Homo sapiens: one gene and its partners. The protein of the gene in region 2 interacts with the protein of the main gene of each other region in a biochemical or structural test. Each region holds a gene or a part of one and is shown on either strand. Other genes may lie near its edges.

Evidence for each region.
Region 1: the proteins of TRDN (region 2) and CASQ1 form a complex in vitro, tested with the Homo sapiens proteins (one study listed by BioGRID).
Region 3: the proteins of TRDN (region 2) and HRC form a complex in vitro, tested with the Homo sapiens proteins (one study listed by BioGRID).
Region 4: the proteins of TRDN (region 2) and CASQ2 form a complex in vitro, tested with the Homo sapiens proteins (3 studies listed by BioGRID).

What each region holds. Positions count from the first base shown.
Region 1 is NC_000001.11:160,186,365-160,193,575, forward strand, and holds the start of CASQ1 (calsequestrin-1 precursor), read left to right. Parts: upstream 1-4,210; 5' UTR 4,211-4,387; coding exon 4,388-4,666; intron 4,667-6,437; coding exon 6,438-6,522; intron 6,523-7,211. Other genes in the region: ATP1A4 (sodium/potassium-transporting ATPase subunit alpha-4), read left to right, coding at 1-3, 307-335. UniProt on the Homo sapiens protein: Calsequestrin is a high-capacity, moderate affinity, calcium-binding protein and thus acts as an internal calcium store in muscle. Calcium ions are bound by clusters of acidic residues at the protein surface, often at the interface between subunits.
Region 2 is NC_000006.12:123,633,939-123,641,507, forward strand, and holds the start of TRDN (triadin), read right to left. Parts: upstream 3,013-7,569; 5' UTR 2,838-3,012; coding exon 2,816-2,837; intron 1-2,815. UniProt on the Homo sapiens protein: Contributes to the regulation of lumenal Ca2+ release via the sarcoplasmic reticulum calcium release channels RYR1 and RYR2, a key step in triggering skeletal and heart muscle contraction.
Region 3 is NC_000019.10:49,152,397-49,160,189, forward strand, and holds the start of HRC (sarcoplasmic reticulum histidine-rich calcium-binding protein precursor), read right to left. Parts: upstream 3,001-7,793; 5' UTR 2,842-3,000; coding exon 1,011-2,841; intron 936-1,010; coding exon 865-935; intron 1-864. UniProt on the Homo sapiens protein: May play a role in the regulation of calcium sequestration or release in the SR of skeletal and cardiac muscle.
Region 4 is NC_000001.11:115,765,708-115,773,511, reverse strand, and holds the start of CASQ2 (calsequestrin-2 precursor), read left to right. Parts: upstream 1-4,797; 5' UTR 4,798-4,970; coding exon 4,971-5,204; intron 5,205-7,804. UniProt on the Homo sapiens protein: Calsequestrin is a high-capacity, moderate affinity, calcium-binding protein and thus acts as an internal calcium store in muscle. Calcium ions are bound by clusters of acidic residues at the protein surface, especially at the interface between subunits.

The DNA of each region.
Region 1 (7,211 bases), on a different chromosome or scaffold from region 2:
ATGGTGAGGCTCCCCTGGGCCCCGCTCTGACTGAGTGGTCACCAGCCCCCTCACTAGCTCTCCCATCCCACCTAGTCCCTCCAGACCCACCACTGACTTTCTCCCCTCCTCGCTGCCAGCCTTGACTGCGCCTGGAGCCGAGACCTCTCTACCCCTTGGCTGCACCCCTCTGCTCCATCTGACCCTCAGTGCCCTGTGTTCCAGACCTCCCACCTCCAACCTTGTCCCTGCTTTCCCTTCTGCCTGTCTCCCCTGGATGCCTCTAATTCCTTCTCCCAGTTCACGCTGGCCTCTTCTCTTCCACAGGCTGGGTGGAAAGGGAGACGTACTACTAAACTCAGCAGATGAAGAGCTTCATGTGACACAGGGGTGTTGTGAGAGCTGGGATGGGGCCAGAGATTATAAGTTTGACACAACATCTGAGACACTAGGATGAATTATCTTGGATGAGAAAGATGGGCAATCCTGGGCTGGCTTGAGGGAATCATGGGCAGAGGATGAGGTGGGCTGAAGGGAAGCCCAGCCTGCATCTAGCTGGAGCCCCGCAGGGAGGGGCATGGTCCTGCTGAATCCCGTAGCCAGTCTAGACAGTAAATGTCTGGAAAAGCCCTCACCAGCTGGATGTGTCAAATCTGATCTTGGGGGAGTGGGGATTACTGTGAAGCTCCCTCCACAGGTCTTCATGATGACCAGGCTGGGGAAGTGTTTTAAGGACCAGAGTCAAGGCTGGGATAGGATCAGTATCAAGCATCCTTGCCCTTTAAAGTCACTCTCCGAGCCACTGGACAGCAAGGACAGGGCAAATGACTGCCTCAAAATTCCAGCTGAGATCAGAGAAATGGAAGGTGGGGGAGAGAGGAGCAGCTAAGTCACACGTGGGAAGAGGGTCCACAGCATCCGCACAGGGGGTAGGTGGGGTGGAGTCATCTGACCCCACCTTGCAGTTCCTGAGACCAGCTTGCAGACCACAGCGCTGTGGTGCTAGAAGAGATCAGATTGCATCAGTGAAAAGCCTGAAGTCCAGAGAGGTTAAATGACTTGGGAATGGCCATGTGCTGAGTGTTGTCCCTCATCTGAGAAAGGGACAGGTAGGAAGGACAGTCTCCAGGCATACTGGTGGTCCCTGCCCTCTACCCTCGGTCATCAGGGCTCCTCAACCCCATTCTGGCCCTCGGCCTGTTTTCTCTGGTGTAGCCTTGAGATAGAGGCTGTAACAAGACTTTCTGAATCCCTGTGGCCTTTACTGTGAAGCAGCCGCCCCTGCTCTGCACGGGGTGATGGACTTTCCCAAGAGCCTGGCCTCTGTGCCTGGGCCCAGGTGCATTCTCAGATGAGTGAAAACTCGTGGAGGGCCTTTCTCTCCTGCCCACCTTCGTCTCAGCATTTCTTCCTTCCCCTTCACCCGCTCATTCACTTTTGCTCTGTGAGCCCCTCCACTGTGCCATGTGGGTCAGTTCATTCTCAGGCCTCTTTCAGAGTAGAGCATTGGCTGTTCCCAAATGTGTACAGGGTGGAAGAGAAATGCTAACGAAAGCTAGGGGAACACCATCAGCTATTTCCACAACAAAACACATATGTACTAGGTGTCTGCACACTACACCTAACACTGGGACGAGGGTTTTATATACACACCATCAAGAAAGTCACATAAATGTTTCCCTACCACCCACTCCATGTTACCCAAGAAGAAACCAAGGTCTGTCCATTTTCAGAACGTGGGCCCTTAATCACTTTCAGACTAGTCTTTCAGTGAGGGCTGGGCCAAAAATACACAAAAACAAAACAAAGCAAACAAAAAAAATAGGCTAGTGATGGGGAAGGACCCGGGGTGGGTCTGGAGGATGAGAGGCCATGAGCTAGCAAAGAGAAGGCCATCGTGAGTATCGCCCGCCATTTTCCCTACATCAGGCCCCTCCTCAGAGGTCTCTCTCCCTCTTCTCCTCCCTCTTCCATCACAAGGTCTCCTAGGAACAGTGCTATATCAGCCTGGGGTCCTTCCCCAATTGCTGACATCGCTGAACCAGACCCTGGAAGATCAGTGGGCCAGGGTATATGTGAGTGAGGTGGGAAGCAGGAGCACAGAGGGGCCAGCTCCTCAGGTTTCAGTAGCAGGAGCTTCAGGTGTCTGGTGGGTTAAAAATACAGAGGCCCCAACTCACGGTCATTTGATACCAGTGGCTGAGGCTTCTCAAGTCCAAGGGCCTGAAGGGAAGGAGACTGAGTAGAAAGTAGACAGAGTGAAGCATCAAGAGAGAGCAGTGGGGGCGGGCGCTGGAAAGGGGAAGGGTGGGACTGGAGCCAGAGAGGGCAACGAGAGGGAACGGGATGGATGGCAATGTCCGGTAGCTGTAGGAAAGGACCAGGAGATGGAACAGACTCGCCACCAGAGTCCCATCTCATACTCTTGGGGGTACAAAAGGTCAGATTCAAGATGGAACAAGTTTTATGCTCCAGCGTCTCTGTCCCAGTGTCTCCCGCCTCCCCTGGAATGCAGAAGTGAGAAATCAGGGCTGGACATCACCTAGATCATCTGCTTCTGGGCAGGCCTCCCCATCTCACCTGGCTGCCTTTGCTCTGGCCTTGGGGCTTTCCCACGTTAGCCACTCTTCAGGGAGACCAGGATATGGGCTTCTGAGGTCTCTTCAGCTCCAACGTGCTGTGCTTAGGCTAGCTCCAACCTCTCCTGCTACAGTGACAGCTGTCCCTCTTGGCCTCACTCCTGCCATGCTTTTGAGATTTTCTGTGGCCTTCCGTGTTCAGCTGTGTAAGGTCCACCACACAGACATGTGGAAAAGTTATTCTGCTAACATAATTACATGACCCTCCCTGGATGCAAAACAAAACAAAAAAAACACCACTGTCCCTCTAGAATCAGAGATACCTCAGGGTGCAGTGGCAGCATGTGACTTTGATCTGACCCTCTATGGTCTCCCTCATGCCTCAGTTTACCTGTGCATAGTAAGAACCCTGGAGGGCCATGAAGAGGATCCTTCCTTCCTACGTATCCAGAGTTAAACTCACTACTCTGTCCTCACCCCCCAAGCTGGATCCAGAAGTTTAAGCCCCTACCCGCCCATCTCTGCTTTGGATCTCGGGTGCACAGAATTAATCATCAGTCTTGGTTCAGGGCACAGGGTTCACCTCTTCATGCTTGCCTAATGTTAATTTTTTTTTGCCCTGGTGTCAATACCTGATCCTCTTTGTCTTGTCAAAGACATGGGAATAAATAGTAGCTATTCACTCTCCTTGGAAGCATGCAGCCTGGGAAAACCTCCCTTCCCACTGTGCCCCAGAAAACCGAGTCCCATAGGATCAGGGTAGGGAGTGCACACACAGGTGGCAACCAAAGGACAGACCCCTTCTCATTGTGGGCTTTATAGGCAGAGAAACCCCAAACCCACATCTCTACAGGACAGGATCTGGGCCAGCCCTGTCCTTCCCTGCATTCCCAAGTTAGGAGTGCTGAGTGAAGCAAAGGAAACTGGCTGGAGCTGAGCCAGGTTGCCAGTCTTGGACGCGGCTCCATCTTTTATTCAGAGAATGACCTCATCCTTGGTCCTGGTTCTTTAAAAGAAAGTGGAGGGGGTCTCTTTCCTGCAGCCTGGCTTGCACTTTTATCGCCCCACTCTCCTACATAGTATCAAAGAATCAGAATCAGACTTCACCTACAGAAGATTCCCAGGCTTTAGGACATAGAGCCAATACCACATTTGTCCCCCTTTTGTCCTATATTATCAATTTAGCCTCTGACCCAGTTAGCTCCTCCTCTCCACTGCATTTAACTTCTAATTACCCTTGCCCCACCCTCGGCCCACCCTAATTACCCTTATACCTCCCCTCCCCCAGCCCCAGCTTCATTTACCTCCGACTCATCTGGTCTTATTTTTAGCTCCGGCATCTCTCCTTTTCCTTTCTTAATATGGCGATGAGCTCTTAGGCCAGTGTGGGGACCGGGGCTGAGGTGCCCTGGACACTGGAGGAGGGGGAGGGAAGGAGCCCCTGGGAGCCTGGGGTAGAAGTGTAGGAGGTGGGAGGATTCCGGCCCGCATGGAGCTGTCCTGGCCTCAGAAGGTTATCCGTCTCTCCTGCCAACCATGGAGACATATTTAGACAGGACCAGGTGGGGACTGAGGGGTGCCAATTTCAGGGGGCAGCTCCGGTTCCCTCCCCGCCCCCTGCTCCTATTCCTCCACCTGACCCTTTTTCCCTTGGCTCTGTCGGCAGTTTCTCCAGGACCCAGCAGTGCCCTCTGTCCACTGCTCTGGGCCATTCCCCAATCCCCCCTCCCACTTGAGCCCCTAACTCAGAATCTGGGACCCAGGGGCCCCTCCCTACCCCAGCTAACCTCTTCTGGACCAGGAGAGCCAACCCAGATCCCACTACCTCCATGAGTGCTACAGACAGGATGGGGCCCAGAGCTGTGCCGGGTCTGCGGCTGGCACTGCTGTTGCTGCTGGTGCTAGGGACACCCAAGTCAGGGGTACAGGGGCAGGAAGGGCTGGACTTCCCTGAGTACGATGGTGTGGACCGTGTGATCAATGTCAATGCAAAGAACTACAAGAATGTGTTCAAGAAGTATGAGGTGCTGGCACTCCTCTACCATGAACCCCCCGAGGATGACAAGGCCTCACAAAGACAATTTGAGATGGAGGAGCTGATCCTGGAGGTGAGTTGGGGGCACTGCAGGCCTGCAGAGCATGTCTAGCCCCTCTCCGGAATCCCCTATCCTACACCCATGTAGCTCTTTGAGGATGGGATCTGGGGGTGAGGGGCAGTGTGGTAGGAACCCTGTCCTGACCAACAGGATGCAAGTGGCATGTGGCTTTAGTCAAATGAGAAACAGAGTCTCAGGAACCCAAAAGTACTATCAGCGTCAGGAAACCTTTAGCAGGGGTGCTGCAGGAAGAGCTCCCCTCCCTGCTATAGGAGGCTGGTAGTATTTGACTTAGGTTTGGCTAGGACACTGAGGGTGAAAAAGGGAGGTACTTGGAGGGCCAGGGGAGAACAGCAGTGTATATTGCACTCCCCTACCCCACCCATCTGCTTAGCCAGAACACGTCCTCTCCACATACTTCAGGGGCTGCACCCCAAAGAGATCCAAACTGAGTGTAAATGTAAATGTTATGATACTTGCATGCCATGTTTAAATATCTCCTAGAGATCATGCCTCCCATTGGACTCCCAGTCCCCTCTCTCTTCCTTCCCCCTCCCTAATTCCCCATTTGTCTCCATTGGATAAGCTGGATGCCCTCACTGGAAAATTCTTATGGTTGCAGGAGGTGTCAGAATGTCTTCCCCAATCTTCTTTTTGTGGGAAAAGTCTCCTCACCTCCAAAATGACTTCAGGCCCAAAGGAGAAAGAAGTTATCATAAGAAAAGAAAAAAAACCTATGTTTGGGAATGTGTTCATACACACACACCTTTAGGAAATGGGATGTGAGTTTTCTTGTCCAAGCTCCTGTGGCCCCTTCTCTGGCCTCAGCTTGTCCAGAGCTTGGAGCATTTCAGGGTGAGACACCAGAACCACAGGCTCTCATTTTGTGCACCCCTGCTGGGTGCTAGAACCTGCCATCTGATTAATGAGCCGAGTATTTTTATCCTGAGTGCTCAGTATCCCTGGCCATCCACCTGCCAACCGCCTCCCTTCCCCACCCCTCTGAGAATCACAGTACCTGAGTCTGTGCTGAGTGGGGGTAGAGCTGCAAGCTGTGCCCACAGCAGAGAAAATCAGGGTTGAACGCTAAGCTGGAAGGCTTATGGGGGCAGGGACCTCCAGGTGTGACTGTCCACAGCCTAAGGACAGGCTGAAGTAGAGTGCGAAAGGGGAAAGTTGGGCCCTGATGGGGAGAACTGTCCGGTCGCTGTCAGTCTCTCTCCCTCTGGGGGGTAACAAATGGTGACCTCTTATCTCAGCTCTCTGGCCTTCCCCAACTCCTCAACAACATGACCAGACCCACCACTACCCTCCCACCCTCCAAAATTCTTCCCATTGGGAGTCACTCTGAAGAATCTCAGGGACTTCCAAGATCAACCCCACACTGAGCTTGGCCCTTGACCAGGGACAGGGACCTCCAGGTGTGACTTGAGCAGGATGGAATGCAGGACTCAACCCTGAAGGAGGGAAGGGGCCCTCAGTCACTCTGAAGCCAGACTCCTCAGTACCTCTTAGGCACTGGGAAGTATTGAGTGCAGTGTCTTCAAGTCCAACATAATAAGCACATTGCAAATGAGCAATCAATATTCATGAACTAAGTTGAGCCAAAAACAGAACTGTGTGGCTGTAGGGAATTTGGGGGATATTCTGGATCTTAGCAAAGGGTCAAGGTCAACTCTTATATCTCCCGCACCTCAACTGACCCAACTTGAAAGCATGAGAGGGAGAATAGGGGATAATAAAAATTCCAGGGGCTAATTTTAATCATAATCCTTCCCTCCAGTTAGCAGCCCAAGTCCTAGAAGACAAGGGTGTTGGCTTCGGGCTGGTAGACTCTGAGAAGGATGCAGCTGTGGCCAAGAAACTAGGTAAGAGAGGGGAGGGCAGGGGAGGGGAAGGTGGCATTGAGACAAGGGGAGGCTTAGGGCGGAGGACCTGTCAGGCAGTCCTTGGGATCCGAGGGGCTTGGGAATCTCTCAGATTTATGTCTATTCTAAAAGAGGGGGTGAGAAAATATGAGGTTGGGAGGGTTATGGCTCGGAGACTCTGCCTCTCTATTCCTTATGAAGTTCCATGCTCAAATCCCAGAAAGAGGTGGGGGAGGCCTTCTTTATACTTACCTTAAAACATGGCTAGGTGCTGGAGGGAAGGGGAGTCGGGGAATACAGGCGGGGCTGGCCAGACCTCTGCAAACTCCGCTTCCAACCCCTCCCATCCAGAGCCATGGTTGTTAGAGCAGTCAGCCACTAGGGGGCAGCACAGGCTTGAGACGGGATTCTGGACATGCATGGGGGAGGGGTGGTCAGTAATAATGAAGTCATCTGGTCAGTAATAGCAATTAAAGAGCTTGACTGGGAACCAGCTACTAGAGTGCTCAGAGGGGGTGGCATGAATACTCATCTCTAGTCGTTGCGGTCAGAGAAGGGGAGAAATACTGCTAGAATCTACACCTCTCTATTCCCTCCCCTCACCCTACCTGATCCCCCAGCTACTCCCTAGAAAGCTCTGGGGCCACGCTAGCCCCCTAGGCTTAATCCAGGGGCAGAGACCTCAGGCC
Region 2 (7,569 bases):
TGTATGAGCCTTGTCTTCCCAAAACTTGAGATGAGAACAGTTAACTAGAGCTTTCTAAGGTAATGAGTTATCTCTTATATTCTTAAGTGCCACAAACTGTTTTGTGTGTGTGCGTGATAAATGGATGGAAAAGGTAATTGATTGATAGGTGGCATAGGTCTACTGATAGAGTGCTTACATTTCAGTAATGTGTCCAAAAGTGATTGCAAGCCCCAGGCGTGATGGTTCTTGCCTGTATTCCCAATGTTTTGGGAGGCAGAGGCAAGAGAATCTTGGCTTGAGGCCAGTAGTTAAGTACAGCCTGGTCAACATAAGGAGGTCGTGTCTTTACAAAAATAATAATAAAAAAAAAATTAGCCAGGCATGGTGGTGCACACCTGTAGTCCTAACTACTTCTGATGCTGAGGTAGAAAGATTGCTGGAACCCAGGAGTTTGAGACTGCAGTGAGCTATGATCATGCCACTGCATTCCAATATGGGTGACAGAGAAAAATTCTGCTCTAAAAAAAATAAAATAAATAAATAAATGGTTGAAAAAAATATAGCAGATGAGATAAAATAAGACTATTTCAGGCTCAGAAAATAGCCTGTACCAAGGCACTGTACAAAGGTATACCTTTTATAAAAGACTGGAGGAAGACAATTGTAGCTAGGGCACAAAAGGTGAGAATTGCAAAGATAACATGAAACTGTGTAGTAACAAAGTGTGAAAAAACTTTGGATATCATCAAAGAATGACTGTGCTTCCTTAAAAGATGAGTTCATTTGAGTTGGCAGTCTAATTTTCATTTGAGAAATATTATTAATAAATCATTCCAGAAAACAAAAAAAAATGCATAATTGATGTTCAGATAACATAGATCCTATGAACTGTTAAGGCCCGGAAGTGGAAAATGACCATCACCCAAGAATTAGATGGTATTTCTACTTTTTAATTTTATTACTAATGTAATTATTTTTATGGGTAACTCCAGAAGGTCTTCCAAGGCCCTTTTAAACCCCCGCAGAGCAAAGGCAGAAACAAAAGCTCTATTTCATAATCAAGAATTTTCCTGTAAAAAGTCTTTTGAATCAAATGCAAGTTCTACAAAACATAATCCACAAGCAAGCCCAAGATGGTTTAGTCAACTGACCTCCTGAATCACCTGGGAGCCCAAACCCTGAACAGAGGTAGAGAAACAGAAGATTAAGACGCTCGTAGCTATCTTAATAACTTGTGCAGAGCTAAACAAGAAGTTTTTATACATAGCTTTCTTTAAGGCAAACTAAAAGCAACATGACACAGAATATCTAAGGAATAGGAAAAATGCTATTTATATTTAGTTAGCAAATTCTGAACTAAAATTGGTAAAGAGTAAACCTGATATCCTCTCACAGAAAAGAAAACACACACACACACACACACACACACACAAACAAGATTTAAAGGGGCTGGGTTTAAATGTTGGTAATGCTGGTCTTGAGCAAGTCACATAACATTTTAGTTACAGTTCCTTTTTCTGCCAAACTGAGATAATAATGCCTACTTAATTGAATTGTGTCAGTTTTAAATAAGTAAACACACATAACGTTCTGAGCAAAATACCTAACACATAGAAATCTCTCAGTAATTGTTATTAATACGAGGTGTCAGACTGAATTTCTCAGTGCAAGGTACAAATAAGGCACTTCTTATAAATATTGACTAAAAATCTCCAACAGAAATTACTGTGTGTCCATACTAATTTCTACCCTCAAAAATAAAAACAAATATTCTATTTTTCAGTTGTATTATTCAAAGCAAACCAGCACAGCATTTAACTTGGAAGTTGTTAAGAGCACCACCTGTCTGATTTTCTTACAGCTGTCAGAAGCAAATTTTAGATCCACCTCCAAAAGTTTTACCTCAACTAGAACCAGACTGTGTCTGTATTCAAAGTAATTTAGTTTTGAAGGTTTCCTTCATTCTAAGAAATACGTACATATATATATGAAGTATATATGAAATATAAATATATATAACTAGCAACCATCAAATAGAAGATATGTATTATAGTATGTAGCTTTCAGTAAAGCATTGAAACAGAAAATATTTATTGTAACATAAAGATAGAATTTACCATTTAGAGGAAAATGAAGAATGAATTTACAAAAAGAACCAGAATTCTAACACTTAATTGCTTTATTTTAAAAATCATACTGATTCACAGTAAGTTTGTGGAATTCCAGTCTTTATCTCTGAATTTCCATTAATGGTCAAATAAATACAAATTTTATGGGAACACTTATGTCTTAAATTGTATATAAATCATATATATGTATGTGTGTTTTACATACCCTAGTAGGAAAGGAAAAACAAATTTAAGGTCTCCATTTAAAAATATCATAAAGCAGAAATGCTTCAAATTACTTTTTAAGTTTAAGTAAGCATTAGTGTAATATTTTAAGTAAGCATTAGTGTAATATTTTAAGTTCATCATGGTCTCCATCCTTGAAAACTTTGTAATTTTTGCTGGATAAGATATCGGCCATCATGTTACATGACCATAGCTATTTATAGAGGTGTGAGTAACAACTGTTAACTAGTGGGGCCTTTGGTATAGCAGAGAACAGTTTCCACATGCAAAATTTAAGAGAAATCTCTTTTTGCTCCCCCAATATACAGATCTGGCAGCCTCTCAGCTCCTAAATCCACTTCTCAGATCCTGTATAGAATCATTGACCAAGGCAATTACCTTAAAGCAACATTTTAAATGGACACATCGACAGTTAATGTGGCTGTCGATTTGCATATTTTTTTTCCTTACTTGATACTATCGGAAAATGGTAGCAATACCTTCAGCAGTGATCTCAGTCATGGTGGTCGTCAAAAGTAAAAGTCAGTTGAAAAGTTCCCGTCAAGTTGCACTTTGCAGAGTATTTGGGGATTTGAGAACTCTGGTGGAGGGTTCTGTGTCAAAACCTGGGGGCTCTTCGTTTTCCTGGCTGTTTCTGCTGCTTCTTTGTTGTCCTGTTGAACTTTGCCTCTCCTCTGCAGAGTTCTCCCCCTGGAAACAACCTAAGCCCTTTCCAAGCAGCACTTGTGGCTCAGCTAGAAGTATCAGCTTCAAACAAAAATAGCCTCATCTCCCTAGGACTCTTCAGCACTTTTTTTTTTCTTTTTTGGCACTCTAGAGGAACACACACACAGACACACCAGCTCTTCAGCCCCAAAGAGAGAAAGGCAAAAAACAAACAAACAAACAAAAAAAACCAAATGAACTACAAAGTACCATCTAAGCCCCCGCAGTTTCTCTAAGATAATTACAGATCCTGGGGTCTATGTCAGAAAACATGAAATAAAGAGTTGAAAGTAATCTTATCCGTGAGAGCTCAGATTTATTCTTAGTGCTCTTAATGCTCAGAACATTCTTCTTTCCCTTATTTGGTTTGGGGAGGGTCCCAAATGTCTATCACAGGCAAAAGGGAGGGTAGTCTTGAGTAATTTTCTAGAAGTTATGTTCCTGTTGATACAAATCCACTTAGCAAGTGCAGTTATTTATATAGGGCTACACTTAAAATTGCAACTATTAAATCTTGAAGCTTTCTTTTAAAGTAGTCATATTGTAGAAGATTAATATTTTCTGAACACTGGCCAATAAGAATTATGTAATGTGAATTTATAGTGTGATACTTGAAAAACATTGGATTGATGAATTACTATCTTTTTAATTCTCTCTACTACCTTACTAAGAACTAAATACCTGCATTTATCCATGCAGTAAAAAGGAAGGGAAGGTGACATAAAGTTTAGTAGTCCACAGCCAATATTTAAGTAAAGTATTTCCTTATCTCAACTTAAAAAAAAAAGGATTATAGCAGCCACTAACAATTAACCAAATTGGCTGATTAGCATTTCACCTTCCCACTCCTAGACAGGTGTTAATGAGCAAAAAAATATTCAATAGTTGGTAGTTGGAAGCAAAAGGAGAATCGAAGGGCATTGATAATCATAAACTCTAGCCAATCTGTGAATAATCAAGGGTTGACTACACTTTTATTTTATTCTCATATTCAACCTAATAAATGCTTGTAGTTTAATCTTTTAGCTTGAACTTGATACTTTTCGTTTTCAGACCTCCCGAATTCCTATGGTACTTCATAGATCATGAAGCAAAGCCATGTTTGTTATTTTTAAAATTCAGGCTCAGAAGAGTGCTGCAACAGCTATTTCCATAGGCAATGACCTCCTCCCTGTTAGTGGTTCTGTCTTAATCTACTGCCCCCATTCCTGACACAATAGAAAGTTGCTCATTTACCAGCTGAATACATAAATTAGTAACAAATCTTAATTTACAAGGAGGAAATGATTACATGATTACATTCATGATTTTATTCAATTCCTATATCTAGGACTGGGCCTAGAGCCTTTTAACTACAAGTTTGCTATCTTCCCCAAGAAATGAGGCCTTGTTGCAGATACTATGACTTAAGGTAAAGGGGGTCACTGCAAATTAGGCCCACTAGCGGGATGAAAAGATACAAAATCCTCAAGAGCAGCTTCCCAGAGCTCTGGGTTGGTCTAAGGAGGTATCCTAAGAGAAAAGCCCTCCTTACATTGCCCCCCACAAAGAATCTCCAGTCAATAGTGCCACAGCAGTTCCAATTGTTTTGAAAAACGTAGCACTTCATATCTCCATTCATCAGTTACTTTCATAATCTTTCATTGTAGTTAACTGAAGGAATGACATCTTATGTAACTCATTAAGAATTTTCATGGGTCAGATCCTAAATAAAATTAGGCTCTGGAACAGGAAAAAACTCAACTTTTCAAACTAGTTTTACTCAATAAAAAGTTAAAATAAGACTCTAGAAAAGAAATACTAAATTCCTAGTATTGATGTTAGTCTTAAGTTCCCAATCACTATTTTCATGTTAAACATACTGGAAGGAAAAATAAAAGAAAACATATTCTAGACAATAAACATGTTTTGAAGATAATAGCTTTTTCAAACCTTTCTGTGAGATGAGTTGATGAATGTCATTAGGCAGTGAGAAATTGGCATGGTTCTCATTTTGAAAAGTTATTAGGACTCTTTCAATTTATCTGAAACTCCATTCATGAGGTATGTCTTTGAATTCCAAATGGAACCCTGCCAAGCTTTCTGAAACCAAGCAACTGACATTCTTACAAGTGTGTACACCTACTCTTCAGGGAACTCAAAGAATAAAACATTACAAACGATTCATTTGCCCTTCTTTATTTTTAAAGGGTCTTCATTTTTAAAGAGATGTTACCAGTTCATTGAGCTCTTTCAAAAGGACCCAAAAGTGATATTTCTCTCTTCTCAGCAATAGCTCCTGGAATAACTCTCACATCCCACTTCTGCACAATCAGCACAGGTAGACTTGTCATAGTTTTGCATACAGGGATATTTATAAAATTAGGACATTAATAACTGAGCTAGTCTATATAAGTAAATGATAAACTGTGAAAATTTGTTCTCCTATTAATGTCGCATTTAGGTCAAGGGGCATCTCCAACCTGATTATACTGATCATTACCCCTTGTAATATTCACTAGTTATTCTAAATACTCAAGTTAGTAGATAAAAATATTCTCCCTTAGAGAAATTTTTAAACCTTGCTCCTGTGTCTGCTATTATCATAAACACTCAATAAGACATGTATTCTATTTAGCTATGAGCAAAATACTGTCATCCACACCAAGTTTCAAAATGGCAAAATATTTGGGAGGCAATCAGAGAAGTTTTGTTGATTTGTTTCCACCATAATAAAATAAAATTAATTTTTTAAAAAAAGTCAAACCATACTGCATTACCTCTTTCAGTGCTGATTTGTTTTCTCTATGATGTGCAAAAAGAGACATAGTTGGGTGTAGATTGGTATTTACCATTACTCACTTATTTTCTCAGAGACTGGGGATATTTGAGAGAAAGTAAATTTTAGAGTTTATTGTCAAGGCTTTCTGTTTCTTAATTTACAGACACAAGTGGCTTATACACTTTGCTAACCTACCCACAAATTGGTGGTAAGTGGAAATAATGGAAACACACTTTGTACAATATAGCATGTCTAAACAGAGTGCAAATAAATGTGTAGGATGTACAATTGGGAGAGAAAGAGCTATTTACTTGGATTTTAAAATAATAATTGCCATAACTTCCACATAAACCTAAGGTTTCAGGTTCATTTTAATAGGAGACAAAAATAACCAACTGGAATGATTTCAACAAAGAGAAGGAGAGGGCAGAGTATCATGATGCAAAAAACTTCCATAATTAAGAGCAAACAAAATATAAGCTACTGTTTTAGTGCCTCAGTTGAAGTAGCTCACAAGGGAAAATAGACAGAAGTTTACTTTCAGCTTTGTAGGTAAAGAAAAACTGGCAAACACAATTTAAATTTGTAAAGAATAAATGTTGGCTTTTTAACCCTTGAAATGAAGAAATATGGAAGAAACTAGGAATAGTGGAAGTGAATGTGAGACTATTTGCCTTCATTTGACCTTGAGATAACATTAAATAACCTAGAAATTTCTCTGACGCTTACATTTAATAAACTTAGAATTCAGAATCACAAGCAAAGCCTCTATTGAACTATTATTTCATTAATCTTACTTCATCTCAGCACTGTTGTTCACTTCGTTTTAAATTGTTTTGTATTCTATTTGTGTCACGGAAAATATCGTTCTGCCCTCATTACTATCTCTAAATGGCCTGTGCTCATTTCTTTAATCAAGGTTGAAAGTCATTCCATAGGTTTGGCTTACCATCTGATTATTTAGAAACTGTGTAATCCAGATCGTTTCAAATGACAGAAGGCATTCCAGTGCAATTAAAAACCTTCCTCTCTTTAACTCTGACTCATGAGTAGCTGAGTCTCCAATATCAGGCTTCTTTCCTCACACACATTTGACATTGTCAAACATTCTCTTAGAAATTTTTCTGTCAATCTGGTTTTTAGTTAACAAAGGCCATCGCCTTTGTTGCCCCTTCCTTCTTAGAGATTCCATTCTCTGAAGAGCTGGCGTCTGTCCACTACCATTATCCTGTTTAAGAAGATCTGCAGTATCCTGCAGTAGTTGGTCCCTGTGGAGTCCATAATTCAGATTACTGCTTTCTATTCTGCAGTCGATCACATATGACCTTCAGTCTGTGTTCCTGGTTGCTGTTCAGAAGCAATTTATCATTTATACTTTTTCTATTTCTTATAAAATCACAAATGCTTTTCTTATAAAAAATAAAATATCTGATAACCAATTCTTAGATACAAATTTTTTTCTTTTAAATAATTTAAATGGATATTTCTATTTCTAATTTTGAAAAAAATTATAATGTCATCTTGTTCTTGGCATTTTGCTATTTCACATTATCAACAATGTGATCTGCTGCATCTGGTGTATCATTACTAAATACCTCCAAGAGTCACCAATTTTGTGAGCTTACTTATTAATAATGATGCAACTTATTAGTCCCCTTCTTCAATAAATCTATATTAGCTATTTGCTCTGGGCACTAGGCTAGGTTCTAGTGAAACAAAAATTAAGACAGGGATTTTTTTTTTCTTCAAGGAGTTTATAGTCTAGTA
Region 3 (7,793 bases), on a different chromosome or scaffold from region 2:
TGGTTAGATGGAAACTCTAACGCCACTTGGGAGGTACCCGCCCCTGGCCCACCCCTGCACCCTGGACGCTTCCCCAGACTCTACCCTCTTTATCTCTAACACTGAGCTCTGTATCTGCCCCCCAAACCAGCCTCCCCTCCCCTCCCCTGCCCCTGGTTTCCTTCCTTTCCCTTTTTTTCCTTTTTTTTCTTGAGGCGGAGTCTCTCTCTGTCGCCCAGGCTGGAGTGCAGTGGCGCAACCTCAGCTCACTGCAACCTCCGTCTCCCGGGTTCAAGCGATTCTCCTGCCTCGGCCTCCTGAGTAGCTGGGATTACAGGTGCGTGCCACCACGCCCGGCTAATTTTTTTGTATTTTTTAGTAGAAATGGGGTTTCACCGTGTTAGCCAGGATGGTCTCGATCTCCTGACCTCGTGTTCCGCCCACCCTGGCCTCTTAAAGTGCTGAGATTACAGGCGTGAGCCACCACACCCGGCCCTGCCCCTGGTTTTCTATCTCAGGGCGACCCCATGTCTCCCTGTCAGGGTGGGCTCAGGTGCTCTCTCCACCCGCTCTCTGCCTATTCTCCCCCTAGCCTATCAGCCCCTGTGCCATCCCTCCTTCCCCCGACTCTCTTTGCCACAGACCCCTGTCTCTGTCCCCACACCCCAAGATGCAGCTTGGGTCTTGTCCTCTCCTTCCTGGACCACTGCCCCAGCCTCCCAGCCTTCAGTCTGTCCTCACCTCACATGCCTGCAGAAGGATCTCTTTTCTTTCAGAACTGACCCTGGCCTGCCCTTGCTCTGAGCCCTCCCACAGCACCACCCCAGGGCCCCTGGGACAGATTCTGGGGACACCTTGGTGGGTGGATCTGGGCTGGGGACATACATTGCAGAAGGAGCAGTAGCCACACAGGGACCCTGGCTGGTAGTTCCCATACTCCTGAGCATCCTGTGGACCTGCGGGGACAGGAGGGCAGCAGTGACCCAGGCTGACTCGGTTCCTTCCCACCCACACCAGCCCAGGCCACTTACCTGTGTCCTCACCGCTTTCCTCCTCGCTGGAGGCACCTCCAGCCTCCTCTCTCCTGTCCAGTGGGTTGGGGATGATGGTGAAGCGGGGCTCATCTTCCTCCAGCCCCTCCTCCTCCTCCTCTTCCTCCTCGCTGTGGTCTGGGCTCAGTGGGGCCCCAACCTCAGCCCTCTCTTCCCTCCTCTCCTCGTCTTCTTCCTCCTCCTCCTCCTCCTTGTCTTCCTCTTCTTCCTCCTCCTGGTTCAGGCTGAGGCCATGACCTTCCTCCTCATCCTCCTCATCTTCCTGGTCCCGGCTGCCATGATGGGTGCCTTTCTCTCCCTGCTCTGAACTTTCATCGTCTTCCTCATGGGAGCCGGGGTCCTCTTCCTTCTCCTTTTCCTCCTCAGAATCATCCTTCCTCAAATGGCTTCTATCCTTGACCACTGTGTGTCCTGGGGGGTGATGGCTCATCTCTTTGATGGACCCTCTTTGACCATGGCCAGTTTCTTCATCTTGGTGGCTTTGCCTGTGGCTGGGGGCCTGGTGGCCAAGCTCAGCAGAGACCTCCTCATCTTCCTCCCTGGGGACTCTGTGGTGGTGATGGTGAGGGACTTCTGTTTTATACTCATCTTGGAAGTCCTCTTCATCACTCTTGTGGCCTCGAGGTTGGTGGCTTGCAACATAGTGGCCGAACTGGACTGTGATCTCCTCTTCTTCCTCTTCCTCATCTACAAGGCCATGGTGGACATGTTGGGGACCCTGGTGCCAACGTTCAGTGGACACATCCTCATCTTCTTCCTCGTCTCTGTGGCCTTGGTGCCTGTGGTCAGGGACATGATGGTGGTGTTCACCTGAGACAGCCTCAACCTCTTCCTTTCTGTGGTCTTGGTGCCTGTGGGCCTGGTGTCCATACTCAGTGGAGACATCATCATCATCATTGTCATCTTCTTCATGGCTTCGGTGCCTGTGGCTGGGGTCGCGATGATGGTGTCCATCTGAGACATCTTCATCCTCTTCAATCCCGTGGCCTTGGTGCCTGTGAGCCTGGTGTCTATATTCAATGGAGACATCATCATCATCATCATCATCATCATCATCATCATCATCATCGTCATCTTCTTCATGGCCTTGGTGCCTGTGGCTGGGGCCATGATGATGGTGTCCATCTGAGACATCCTCATCCTCTTCACTCCCATGGCCTCGGTGCCTGTGGGCCTGGTGTCCATACTCAGTGGAGGCCTCCTCTTCCTCCTCCTCCTCCTCCTCCTCCTCTTCTCCTTCATCATCTTCCCCATCATGGCCTCGGTGTCCATGCCTGAGGATATGATGGTGATGCTCACTGGACACAACTTCATCCTCATCCTCGTCTTGATGGCTGTGGCTCCTGTGGCTGGGGAGGTGGTGCCTGTGCTCAGCTGAGTCTTCCGTGTCTTCACTCCCGTGGCCTCTGTGCCCACGGGCCTGCCCACCATGCTCTGCAAAGACCTCCTCACCTGAGACACCCTCATCTCCGACTTTGTGGTCTTGGGACCTGTGGCCTGGGAGTAGGTGCCCATATTCCTTGGAGACATCTTCATCCTCCTTTTCACGGTCTGGGTGGCTCCAGAAATGATGCCCATTCTCTGTGGAAACATCCTTGTTCTCATCTGGATGGTCTCTAGGGCTGTGGAGGTGGTGGCGAAGCTCTGCTGATGCCTCCTCGGAGAGCCCGGCGACTCCAGTGCTGTTGTTCCGGTTTCTGAAGCCTAGCCCATCCCCTCTGAGCTGCTGGGTCATGGCCGGGGGGAGGAGCAGGCTGGCCACCCCAGCCCAGAGGACAGAAGCGTGCAGCCATGGCCTATGGTGGCCCATGGGGACGGACAGGCAGCACTGGCTCCAGCTGCCTCTGCGGCAATGTGGACAAACGTTGGGGTCTTTGTCCCTTTGGGGTTGGTCTCTTTTTTTCTCTGTGTCTCTCCTTTGTCCTTTCGGTCTCTGTCCACCTTCCTCTGGTCCTTGCTGCCTGGCTCTGGACACCCCTCTGAGGCTGTCTCCGGAGCCCCCTGACCCCCCTCTGGGGCCCTCCCTCCCCATTCCCCAGCCAATAGGGTCCTTCCCCTCCCCTCTCTCCAGCTAAATTTACTCTCAGCCCTGAGTTATTCTGGGTCAGTCCCCGCCTGCCTGCCTCCTGCTCCTCCTCCTCCCAGCTGGGGAGGGGACCAGTGAGGGGTCTCTCCCTGGCCAGGAGACGGTGGCCAAGGGACTTGACTTTGAACTACCAACAAGCTCACGTTTGGCAGCTGCAAAGACAAAGGCTAGACTTTTAGCAGGTTTTTGGGGGAGCCTGGGGCACCTGGGGGAGGCAGAAGAGACTTATCAGAGGGGAGAGACTCCTGGGACGGAAGGACTGGGGGTTCGATTGCGGGGTGTTTCCAGCTGGAATGATACGTGCTGGTGAGAGAGTGATGTCAGTATTGAGGCCCTAGAATGGGGGGAAAGGAACATGGCCCCCAACACACGTGCCCATGACCTCCTGTCCCTGGAACTCAGATCTGGGGGCAGGGACTGGGCTAGGCCAGGGCTATAAATACAGCTGGGAGGGGTAGGGGGACTCAGGTTACGGAGGCCACAGCTGTCCCCATCACAGAGGGCTGGCAGGAGACAAGTGGCCTTGCCCGTCTCTGTGTGTCAGTATTTCCTACTCCTCACCCTTCATGACTGCCCCCACTAGGGTCTCCTTTCCTGTTCACGGGTCCTCCTCTCTCTTCAATTCTGTCATCTGCTCTCTCAGGGTCCCTGTCCCTCCTCCATGGGATTGCCTCTCCCTCTCACTCTGGGCTTCTGTCCCACTCTTATCTTAGTGTCAGTCCTCCCCCAAGTCTGTGTCCCTCTCTCTCCCCTAAATCTCTGGCCCCTCCTTTCTGAGTTCCTGCCCTTCCCCCAATTCTTTGGTTTTTGCATCCCCCTCTGCCCCTTGCCTCAGTCAAGGTGTCTCCTCCCCATCTCTGGCATCCACCTCTCTGGGTCTCTGTCCCCACTCTCTCTCAGAGTCTCTGTCCCCCTCTGTCTCAGAGTCTCTGTCCACCTCTCCCTGGGTCTCTGTCCCCCTCTCTCTGGGTCTCTGTCCCCCTCTCCCTGGGTCTCTGTCCCCCTCTCTCTGTGGATCTCTGTCCCCCTCTCTCTGGGTCTCTGTTCCCCTCTCTCTGTGGGTCTCTGTCCCCCTCTCTCTGTGGATCTCTGTCCCCCTCTCTCTGGGTCTCTGTTCCCCTCTCTCTGTGGGTCTCTGTCCCCCTCTCTCTCTGGGTCTCTGTTCCCCTCTCTCTGGGTCTCTGTCCCCCTCTCTCAGGGTCTCTGTCCCCCTCTGTCTCAGAGTCTCTGTCCCCCTCTCTCTGGGTCTCTGTCCCCTCTCCCTGGGTCTCTGTACCCCTCTCCGTGGGTCTCTGTCCCCTCTCCCTGGGTCTCTGTCCCCCCATCCCTGGGTCTCTGTCCCCCCCTCTCTGGGTCTCTGTCCCCCTCTCTCTGGGTCTCTGTCCTCCTCTCTCTCTGGGTCTCTGTTCCCCTCTCTCTGGGTCTCTGTCCCCCTCTCTCTGGGTCTCTGTCCCCGTCTCTCTGGGTCTCTGTCCCCCTCTCTCTGGGTCTCTGTCCTCCTCTCTCTCTGGGTCTCTGTTCCCCTCTCTCTGGGTCTCTGTCCCCCTCTCTCTGGGTCTCTGTCCCCGTCTCTCTGGGTCTCTGTCCCCCTCTCTCTGGGTCTCTGTCCCCCTCTCTCTGGGTCTCTGTCCCCTCTCCCTGGGTCTCTGTCCCCCTCTCCGTGGGTCTCTGTCCCCTCTCCCTGGGTCTCTGTCCCCCCCTCCCTGGGTCTCTGTCCCCCCCTCTCTGGGTCTCTGTCCCCCCCTCTCTGGGTCTCTGTCCTCCTCTCCCTGGGTCTCTGTCCCCCTCTCTCTGTGGGTCTCTGTCCCACTCTCTCTGGGTCTCTGTCCCACTCTCTCTGGGTCTCTGTCCCCTCTCCCTGGGTCTCTGTCCCCCTCTCTCTGTGGGTCTCTGTCCCCCTCTCTCTCTGTCTATCCCTGGGTCCCTGCTGCCCCACCTTCTGATTCTCTGTCCCCTAAGTCTTTGTCTCCCCCTCTTTGGGTTAAATTGTCCCCTCCCTGTCTGGCATCCTCCTTTCTGAGTCTGTTCCCTCTCCGCCACTGGCCCCCAACTCCTTCTGTTCCCATCTCGCGCTTGCCCTTGGAGTCTCCCCTGTGTGTCTCTCTCCCCCCGGCCCGGACCTCTGCACCCCCCAGGTCGCTGTCCCTCTGTCCCCTTATCGCGGCCTGGGACCCGCCCTCTCCCCGCCTCCCGCTTTGGCGTCTCCAAGACTCCCCGCCCCCCAGACCTCGCCCCGCCCCAGGCTAGGCTGGAAAGTGGAGGATCCGGTTTGCTCTGGGCGGGTCTGGAAGCAGAGCCGGCGGAGGGAGCGCCGGGGCCCTGGGCTGCAGGAGGTTGCGGCGGCCGCGGCAGCATGGTGGTGCCGGAGAAGGAGCAGGTGAGCGCCGGACCAGGGTCTGCGGGAGCGCGGAGCTGGGGACCTCGCCTCCAGGCTCCCAGAGAGGAGGGCGCTGGACACCCAGATTCCTGGGTCAGACGGAGGAGGGGGATGGGAGGGTCCAGGTTCCAGGGTCCAGGGCATGGGGGTCGAGACTCCTGAGTCTGGAGCGGGAGGGCGCTGGGGGCCCGGACTCCTGTGTCCGTGGGGAGCGCACGGGGTGGGTGGCTCTGTGTCCCATAGGACAGAACTGGGTGCCCTCTCACCCCACTTCCACCCCTACATTTGTTCCTGTCCCCAGAGCTGGATCCCCAAGATCTTCAAGAAGAAGACCTGCACGACGTTCATAGTTGACTCCACAGATCCGGGGTGAGGAGTTCGCCCCTGGACTGACCCCAGAGGGTCCGCGGCCCGCTGACCCCGCCCGCGGATGGTCACGCCCCAGCCCTGCTCCTTCCCCATTCCTGGACTCGGGGACCTTCCCAAGGGCGTTCCTTGCCGACGCTCTCCCTCTAGGAGCGTTTGGGTCTGTGTAGACACCCCTCATTCCCCATTCGCCATTCTCCCGCTCAGGGTCAGTGTAGACGCTCCAGGGCTCGGTTCTGCTTCTTTCCTCCCCGATGTCTCTTCTATGTGCTTCTGTCTCTTCGTGTCACTTTCTGTGTCTCTGTCTTTCCCTTTTGGGTATTTCTGTTTCATTCATTCATTCATTCATTCATTCATTCATTCATCCATCCATGCAAGAAACCCTCACTCAGCGCTCCCAAGGTCCCTTTAGCCTAATTCAACGGCCCTGCCAGGGTTCCAATTTCCCCTGGGACACGTGCTGTGTGGCTTCGGGCAAATCATTTCACCTCTCTGGGTCCCGTTTCTCATCTGGGCATCAAAAGAGGCTTGATCTCCTGGGGTTATTATGAGAATTAAACAAGTTAATGCTTGTGATATTCCTGGCACAGCGCCCAGCACAGGACGCTGGGAAATATCTGCAGCTCCCACTGGGAGGTGGCAATTATTACCGCGGGCGGGCCCTGTCTTGGTGGCCGGGGACACCAATTGAGCTAGATAGGGTGTGTGCGTCCGCGAGGAGCTCCCGCCCTTCAGTGACGGCCTCTCAAGCGGATCCAGGCTTTCTAGTTTTTTTTTTTTTTTTTTTTTTTTTGAGACGGTGTCTCGCTCTGTCCCCCAGGCTGGAGTGCAGTGGCGCGATCTCGGCTCACTGCAAGCTCCGCCTCCCGGGTTCACGCCGTTTTCCTGCCTCAGCCTCCCGAGTAGCTGGGACTACAGGCGCCCGCCACCACGCCCGGCTAATTTTTTGTATTTTAGTAGAGACGGGGTTTCACCGTGTTGGCCAGGATGATCTCGATCTCCTGACCTTGTGATCCGCCCGCCTCAGCCCCTCAAAGTACTGGGATTACAGGCGTGAGCCATCGCGCTGGGCCAATTTTTTGTATTTTTTTTTTAGTAGAGACGGGGTTGCACCGTGTTAGCCAGATGGTCTCGATCTCCTGACCTCATGATCCGCCGGCCTCGGCCTCCCAAAGCGCTAGGATTACAGGTGTGAGCCACCGCACCTGGCCCAGGCTTTCTAGTTTTTTGTTTTTTGTTTTTTTGAGACAGAGTCTGGCTCTGTCGCCCAGGCTGGAGTGCAGTGTTGCGATATCAGCTCACTGCAACATCCACCTCCTGGGTTCAAGCAGTTCTCATGCCTCAGCCTCCCTAGTAGCTGGGATTACAGGTGCCTACCACCATGCCCAGCTAATTTTTTGTATTTTAGTAGAGACGGGATTTCACCCTGTTGCCCAGGTTGGTCTTGAACTCTTGATCTCAGGCAATGCACCTGCCTTGGCTTTCCAAAGTACTGGGATTACAGGTGTGAGCCACCGCGCCCAGCCCTCTAGTTGTTTTTCAAGACAGTTTTTGGGGTGCGGGAAGTATCCACATTCCTACTTCAGTGTGTATTTTGTTATGACTATATATTAGTGCAGTATGGCTTGTAAATGATGGATAAATAAACAGATATGCGCTTGTTGGACGTGAGTGCTCAAAACCTTTTTACTGATAGGTCAGTGTGGTCAAGACAATTTAGGAAACTCTGGTCTGGCCTGAGGAGGAAGAAACGCAGAAGATAATTATAGTAAGGCAAGGGGTTGCAGCTCCCAAAGACGAGCCACTGGGCTCTGTGAGAGCTGGGAGGAGGTGTTTGCTTAAGACTGGGAGGGGACACAAAATGTCACTAATGGTTTCTGGAGGGAGGAAGAGTGGCTAGTGAGGTGACATTTGAAAGTGAGCTGGAGAGAGG
Region 4 (7,804 bases), on a different chromosome or scaffold from region 2:
TCCTCCTGGAGGCTTTCAGGGAAAATCCTCTCCTGGCCTTTTCTACCTCTTAGAGGCTGCCTACATGCTTTGGCTGCTGGCCTGTGTCATTCCAGCCTCTGCTTCCATCCTCCATCTCCTTCTCTCACTCTGACCCTCTTGCCTCTGTTTCACAAGCATCCACCAGGATAATCCAGGCTAATCTCTCCATCTCAAGATCCGTAATTTAATCACATCTGCAAAGACTCCTTGGTCATATTAGACAACACACACACACACACACACACACACACACACACACACACACACACACACACAGGTTCTGAGGATTATACTGGACATCCTGATGGGGGGTGGGGGAATGGGAAGGCACTATTCCGCCTACCATACCCTCCATTTGGACCCTTTGATATGACCTCCATATTAGGGTTTTTTTTTTCTGTTCTTTTACTGCTACCCCTGAGAACCCTGTATTTCCCCCCTAGTTCCAGGACAAAGTAGCCCTAAGCTTTCCATTTATCTGTTCTTGTCTACTGAATTAAATTTTTCCTTCCTTCTTTCCTTCCTTCCTTCCCCTGTCCTTCCTTCCTTCCTTCTCTCTCTCTGTCTCTCCTTCTCTTGTTGCTGCTGTTAAAATACCTGGCTTTTTTTTTTTTTTTTTGAGATGGAGTCTCACTCTCTTGCCCAGGCTGGAGTGCAGTGGTGCAATCTCGGCACACTGCAGTCTCAGCCTCCCAGGCTCAAGCGATTCTCCTGCCTTAGCCTCCGAGTAGCTGGGATTACAGGCAGGTGCTATTATGCCTGTCTTTTTGTATTTTAGTAGAGATTGGGTTTCGCTATGTTGGCTAGGCTGGTCTCAAACTCCTGACCTCAGGTGATCCTCCCGCCTCAACCTCTCAAAGTGCTGGGATTCCAGGCGTGAGCCACCGGGCCCGGACACAAAGTAATGCTACAGATTTATTTAATAAGCATTTAATGAGAACTACTACTTGCTATGAGGATGCTGTGAACAGATGCTGCCCCTGAAGCAATGAGGTTCAGCGGGGAGAGGGAGAAGGATCTCCCGTGAGAGGAGTGTTTCCAAGGAGAAGTATAGTGTGTAAGGGGAGTGAGTGTCCGCTCCTGGTCTACACTGAGGGCCTCCTTGAGTAGGTGACATTTGTCAAAACCTGGAATCATATCGGTGGAGCTTTGGGGCTCTTTTTCAGGATAGCATTGATCTCTTTCTGCTCGTTTCTGTTGAGGAGTTTCCTGGTGCAGAGGAGGCAGGAAGGCTCCAGGGACCACCTGTTAAAGTTGAGAGAAAAGGAGGGCCTTGGGGTTGCTAACAGGCTTGTTTAGATCTGGCCAGAGGATGCTGGAGGCTCATGGAGCACAGGGCTCTAGACCCGAGCATTTCTGCACTCTTTCTACCAGGCCAATAGGCTGTGCTTCCTTCCAGGAACGGGAGCAAAGAAATAGGCCATTTTCTGTTTTGTCCACTGGGTGGAGTATTTTAGCCAAAGAAGGGTCCTTTGGCAGCAGTGACATTGTAGGCGATCTTTGCCTTGGAGAAGAGGCAAGCTTGGACTCGTCCGGAGTCACGCCCATCAAAACCCTCCTCCGCAGCTAACACTCATCAGACTTCATCACACTGTGTGTTGGGCTGAGGCCTATCCTGGTAAAAGAAAATCTTATAACAGATTTTAACATCTTAGAGCCAGAAAGGGGGCCTTAGGAGCTTGGTGACTCTAACCCTCTTTCACAAATTGGAAGTGCTAGGGCCCGAGCCTCAGGGCTCCTGACCTAATCACACAGGCAGGCGGAACGCAGGTCTCCTGCCTTTCTGGGGGCGGTTCTTTCTCTGAGGCACCTCAGAGGCGCCCAAATGGAGACCTGCAGACCTTCGAAGGGAGGCGTGAGCACATACGTTTCTCTTTGTAGATAAAATGGTCTGAGAGAAAAATCATTCTGCCACCTGTCAAGAATAAACAAAGTAAATGAGCTAGGTTAGATTAAGGGACTGTAGTTGGCGGCCACTCACAGTGAAGGACTGGAAATGGTTAGCAAAACAAGGGGCCTACGGCATATATTGTGACAACAATAAACATTTATTTGTATTGATTTGTGTGTTTTGTTCTACCCCTTCTTGTTTAAAAACAAAACAAAAAGTACCTACTAATGGCACATAAAAATGCACACATTTCAGCACAACCACATAAACTAGAAGTACATGACACATTGGCTTGGGGCGCAGCTAAAGCTGGAACAAAACAGCTGATTTGCAGGATGTAAGGTTGACTCAGAAATGTGTGAAGCATTCTTTGTTTAAAAAATAAATGAATTGGCTGGACCTGGTGGCTCACACCTGTAATCCTAGCACTTTGGGAGGCTAAGGCAGGCGGATCACCCGAGATTGGGAGTTCAAGACCAGCCTGACCAACATGGAGAAACCTCGTATCTAATAAAAATACAAAATTAGCCAGGCGTGATGGCACGTGCCTGTAATCCCAGCTACTCGGGAGGCTGAGGCAGAAGAATGGCTTGAACCTGGGAGGCGGAGATTGTGGTGAGCCGAGATCGCGCCATTGCACTCCAGCCTGGGCGACAAGAGCGAAACTCCATCTCAAAAAAAAAAAAAAAAAAAAAAAATTAAAGTTGGTGAGCAATAAGACAGAGGAAAAACAAAAATAGGAAAATGAAAGGCAGACAGAAAATAAGCCTGGTACGTTAAATGTAAACTATGAAAACCTACCTTTTGCTGAGAGTGGGGCATGAATGTAGACCTCATATCTACCATGGATGCTTGGGGGAAACCTGATCACCACAGCATATGTCAGTGGCTGCATGTCCTCAGGGCTGGGCTGCCTGGCCCAAATCGAGTCCATGATCTAGGGGCAGGAACTTTCCACAGCTCGGGCTTTTTGTAGTAAACCAGAGTTGAAGGCTAAACTAAAGTTTAAAAAATTATTTCTTTTCCCTTATAGTTTTGTCAATTATAAGTCAGAAGGAAATTAAAAGACTCTGACTTTAAATAGCTTCCAATTTTTCAGTAACAGTTAAAAAAAACCTACTTACATATTAAGAAAAGTGGAGCAAATTCTAAATAAAGGTAACCCAGTGAGATCGAGACAACTGGGAACAGTCTGGGGAGGCTGACCTCAAAAAGACAAGACACACATTGTTTCACTCGGAAATCTTTTTCCCCTTAAATTTCCTAAAGAAAGCAGAGATCTTGCATGCTTGCCACTGACTTGGAAAGCTAAGTGCACCTTAGAATGGATATTCTTGGCTCCATCTTTTGAAAACTTAGAGACTACACCATTAGAAAGAACGGAATACCGTCAAGGGTTTTAGTGATGGGTTCTTCAAGGCCCCAACTTTCTGCACATGAGAGTGTAGCATCAAGACAACCCCTTATCAGCCTGACTCTCAGTGTAAGGCCGTCTGACTGCAGGGGAGCCTTGCTTTACTCAGAGAGGCCACGGATCTTCTCTTTGCCTTCTAGCCCCTGCAGAAGCTGTGCATGACAGAGTACTCTGTCTTTCCAAAGCTGATTTATAACTGAAGGAGAACAAAAACTTGGTCAGAATCATGAATGCCCTAGATGCCTTTGAAGAGTGGAGAGACATGACTGGACTAGGGTTGGACTGGAAGAGATGGTCAAGAAGGTACTTAAGAAAAGGGGTGTCTGCAAGGGAATCACCCAGAGTCAGAGGCAAAACAGCCAGGAGCAGCAGCTTTGAGGCAGGGTTGGATTCTTGCTCCGGCAGTTAGAAATGCTGCAAACTCAGACAAGTTGCTGTTAGCTCAGCGGTAGGATGAGCCCTGATCCCTTTTGCCCCAATTGCCTACTGGATTCAAGGAGAAAATGGACAAGAAAGGGTTCACAAACCATTCATATTAGAAACAGACAAATATCCATTATATAACCAATGTTCCACCAGCTCCAATGAGAAGTAAGTATAATAGCTACTATTTTTGAGCACCTATTTTGTGCCATGCTTTTTCATCTATGTGTTTGAAACTTTATGGTTATTATCAGCCCCACTTTACATAGAGGGGAACTGAGAATCAGAGAGGGCAAGTGACCCTCCAAAGTTCATTAGCTGTTAAAAGGCAGAGTAGGGATTTGAACTGTGAACCTTGTTTCATTTTAGTTTAATGAGGACAGGTTCTTCTGGTGTCAGCTGGGTTCAGCAGGGTGTCCCTGCACCCCTCGCCCAGTGGCTGGCAGAGGATTTTTAAGAAGAGAGGAGGGAAGGCAGAAAAAGACAGGAGTAGAACATGAAGAAGTCTACCTCGGGGCTCCATTTTGTTCCATGTTGCAGTGAGGAACAGAGGATGAACAACCACCGTGAGGGGACAGGCTGAGTTACCACCCTGGGGTGATTTAACAATTCAGTAATGTATGAGTGTCATTCCGTATGTTTGAACTCTCCATTTGCTTATTGGCACCATAGTCCCTTATCTCTCTCCCTCTCGAGTTTCTTTCTCTTCTTTGACCTTTCTAGCCTCCTTATTTCATGCGTGTACATTCTTGTCTTTTTCCTTCTGCCTCTTCCCTCTTCACCAGTCGGACAGACTGTATCAGCGAATCCCTCTACAGTGTCGTATCTAACTTTTTTATTCATTGCATGATTTATTTTTAGCCTGAAACAACTGCATCCTAAAAATGGAGTTCCTAATGAGACAGAGGCTGAGCAGAGCTATGTAAGGTATCTGGGGCTTGGCCTCCCAGCCTCCCTAGCTTGGCTGTTTTTCTACTCTCATGCGTGCGTGCGTGCGTGCGTGTGTGTGTGTGTGTGCCTCTGCTCTTTGTCCTGAGCCCACGATTCCAGAGCTGGCTGGACCCAAGGAGGTGAAGAGTCACTTTTCAGCCCCAGGAAGGGCAAAGAAGAGAGAAAATCAGCCTGTCTGCTCTCTCCTTGGCTCAACAAGGCCTCTAACAGTCTTCTGTCCTCTATTCTGCACACAGCATATTTGGGAACGAGAAACAAAAGTTTTCCCAAATGAAGAGAACTCACTTGTTTATTGTGGGGATTTATTTTCTGTCCTCTTGCAGGGCAGAAGAGGGGCTTAATTTCCCCACATATGATGGGAAGGACCGAGTGGTAAGTCTTTCCGAGAAGAACTTCAAGCAGGTTTTAAAGAAATATGACTTGCTTTGCCTCTACTACCATGAGCCGGTGTCTTCAGATAAGGTCACGCAAAAACAGTTCCAACTGAAAGAAATCGTGCTTGAGGTAAGTAACCAAAGGGCATGCTGTCTGCGCTGCCTCAGTGAGGTGCCGAGGGAATGCCTTTGGCCAGGGGTTGGGATATGGGAACGAGGATGCAGAGAATATATACTGAACTCTGCTTTATTTTGGCCTCACGTGAATCAGATGCCCTTGTCACACAGCTGGGATGTGTGAACAATGAGGGGTGGGTCCTAACTCTTCAAATGAAGAGGACCAAACGTGCTACACTACGATGGGTCTGATGTAAAGTCTTTATGGCCCCCTTGACTTTTCAAGGGCCCTTGTCCCAGCCATTGTTTCCCAGATAGAATGTAGAAACTATTGTTAAAACTGTTGGCTGAAATGAAATCCAGGGACTACTTGTGGATTTCATTCAGTGTGCCCACTTTGCTCCCTCAAATCTCCCCATGATCCTGGAGAGACCAGAGTTACTTGACCTTGCGTCTCTCTGGGGGTCAGACGGAGAATATCACTAAATGACTTTCCTCTCTCTTGTTTTGCGTCAGTCAGCATTACAGAATGTAGTTGTGTGCAGATCTTCTGAGCAGCATATTCATTTATGTGATTTTTTTTCTCAGAAAGTTCTTGGTGTGACTTTAGGGCAGAGCTGAAGTCAGTTCTTATTTTATCCGCATTACATGGCCTGCCTGTTTGTAACCTGGCACTGGGGCCCATTTTCTAATCCTTTGCGAGTGCCCCAGAAACTATTCCTGCAGCTCCTCCTGGACAGCTTAAGATGGCTTACACTTTAAGAGGGCCTGAGGGTGCCAAGAATGCTAGTGGGCACCAAGATGCCTCATCAGTCTCCACGCCTAGCCCAGGCGCAAACCTGTGAAAGGGATATTTGAGAATTACAGTTTATTAACCAGCACAATCAGAGAACTCAGGTTGATGAAATAGTTTAATAGGATTATCATATAAAACCCATGTGGATTTGAATTTTTTCAAATTGAAAAATTGACTGTAATAAAATCCAGCAAAACTATCCCAAATACATCAAAAGTATATCTCCAACCTTGGGTGCTGAATGTGGAATTTCAGTTCTCTCTGTGGGTTGCAAGAAAAGAGAAAGCAGGGATAGTTATTAAGACTTTATTTTATAGAAATGAGCAAATCACAGGCTGGAAAAGAACGAGACATAGAACTTAGCTGCTGCTTAGCACATGAAACCAACACTTACATTATATCTCCATCTCAAACTGCCATACTCAGTTATCAAGAGACATTGTTATGAAAACTTAATTGAAGGCATAAGGATTCTCCCCTATATGCTCATCGCTGTCCAGTTAGCCTAGAACTCCAAAAGAATGCCTTTGGGTGGCCAGTACAGGCAAGGACATTCATTTCTGATTCTAATTTTTTTTAAAAAAGAAATATCTTTCTATCATCCTTCTATCTATCTATCTATCTATCTATCTATCTATCTATCTATCTATCTATCTATCATCTCTAGCTCCCCCAAGTATATCTGTCCCCAAAGACTATGCAAAATCATGAACAGAAACTTCCCCTGGGCTTACCATCCCTCCAGACACCTTTGATCCAAGAGTGCCCTTTTCACAGTGGGTGCCGGCCCAGCAGAGACCGATAAGGAAAAGTTCACCACAGGAGTTAATTTGATGCCCCTCAGGCTGCTAAAGCTGGAGTGAGGCATCATTAGGAGAAAAAGAACACAGACCTTGAAGTCAGGATATCTGGATTTAAGTTCTGGCTTTGTCTCTACTAGGCACAGGACACAGGGCAAATTACGTAATTTCTCAGAGCTTCATTTTCTTATCTATAAATATGGAAAAATAGTAACTATCATGCAGCTTAAGAAATGATTAAATAATAATAATGTTGATTAAATGCTTACTAAGTGCAGGGACTGTTCTAAGCACTTGGTATGTGTTAGCTTGTTTAATCCTTACAATAATTCTATTAAGTAGGTACAGTTACCAATTCCATTTTATAGATGTGGAAACTGAAGCAGAGAGGCTAAGTTGTCCAAGGTCACACAGCTACTACAGATGAAGGCAGTTGTACGTAACACCTACACGGTACTACTCCTGAAATCAGTGCGAAAACGCCCAAGGGGCTTCTGGGTAGCCTGTTTAAGATGGTTTCAAGAGTCTTCCTTAAACAGAGTTGCTCAGCCTCTGGACCCGGGTCTGATGATGCCAGCTGTACACCAGCATGGCCGAGAAGTACATGGCCTGGAGGCGCTGCTCATGCAAAAGTGCAAACTGAGGAGGAGGCCTGGGCTCCATTAGTGAAGGTTGAGGAAGGGGCGGGCCTTTGTTGAGATACTTGTCAGGCGCAGCATCAAGGGAAAAAATGGCTCCGGGAAGTCCATGAGTGGAAAGAGCGAACATGCCTTTAAACTTTCTTCATGGTCAAAACATCTATTTTGTCCTCTTAATCCTCTAGACCCCACACTTGCACTAAGAAAAATAGTCTGTCAGCTTCCAGGGCTGTGGCTGTTAGGGGGTAGGGGGAAAAGAGGAGGCAGTTCCCAGTGTCCATCCAACAGGCAGTGTGGTCTCAGCCACGGACAAATAGCTGGAGGGGAGGCAGCTCCCTTCCCCCTCGCAGCTTAAGGCGGCTTCTGACACTTTTTATCA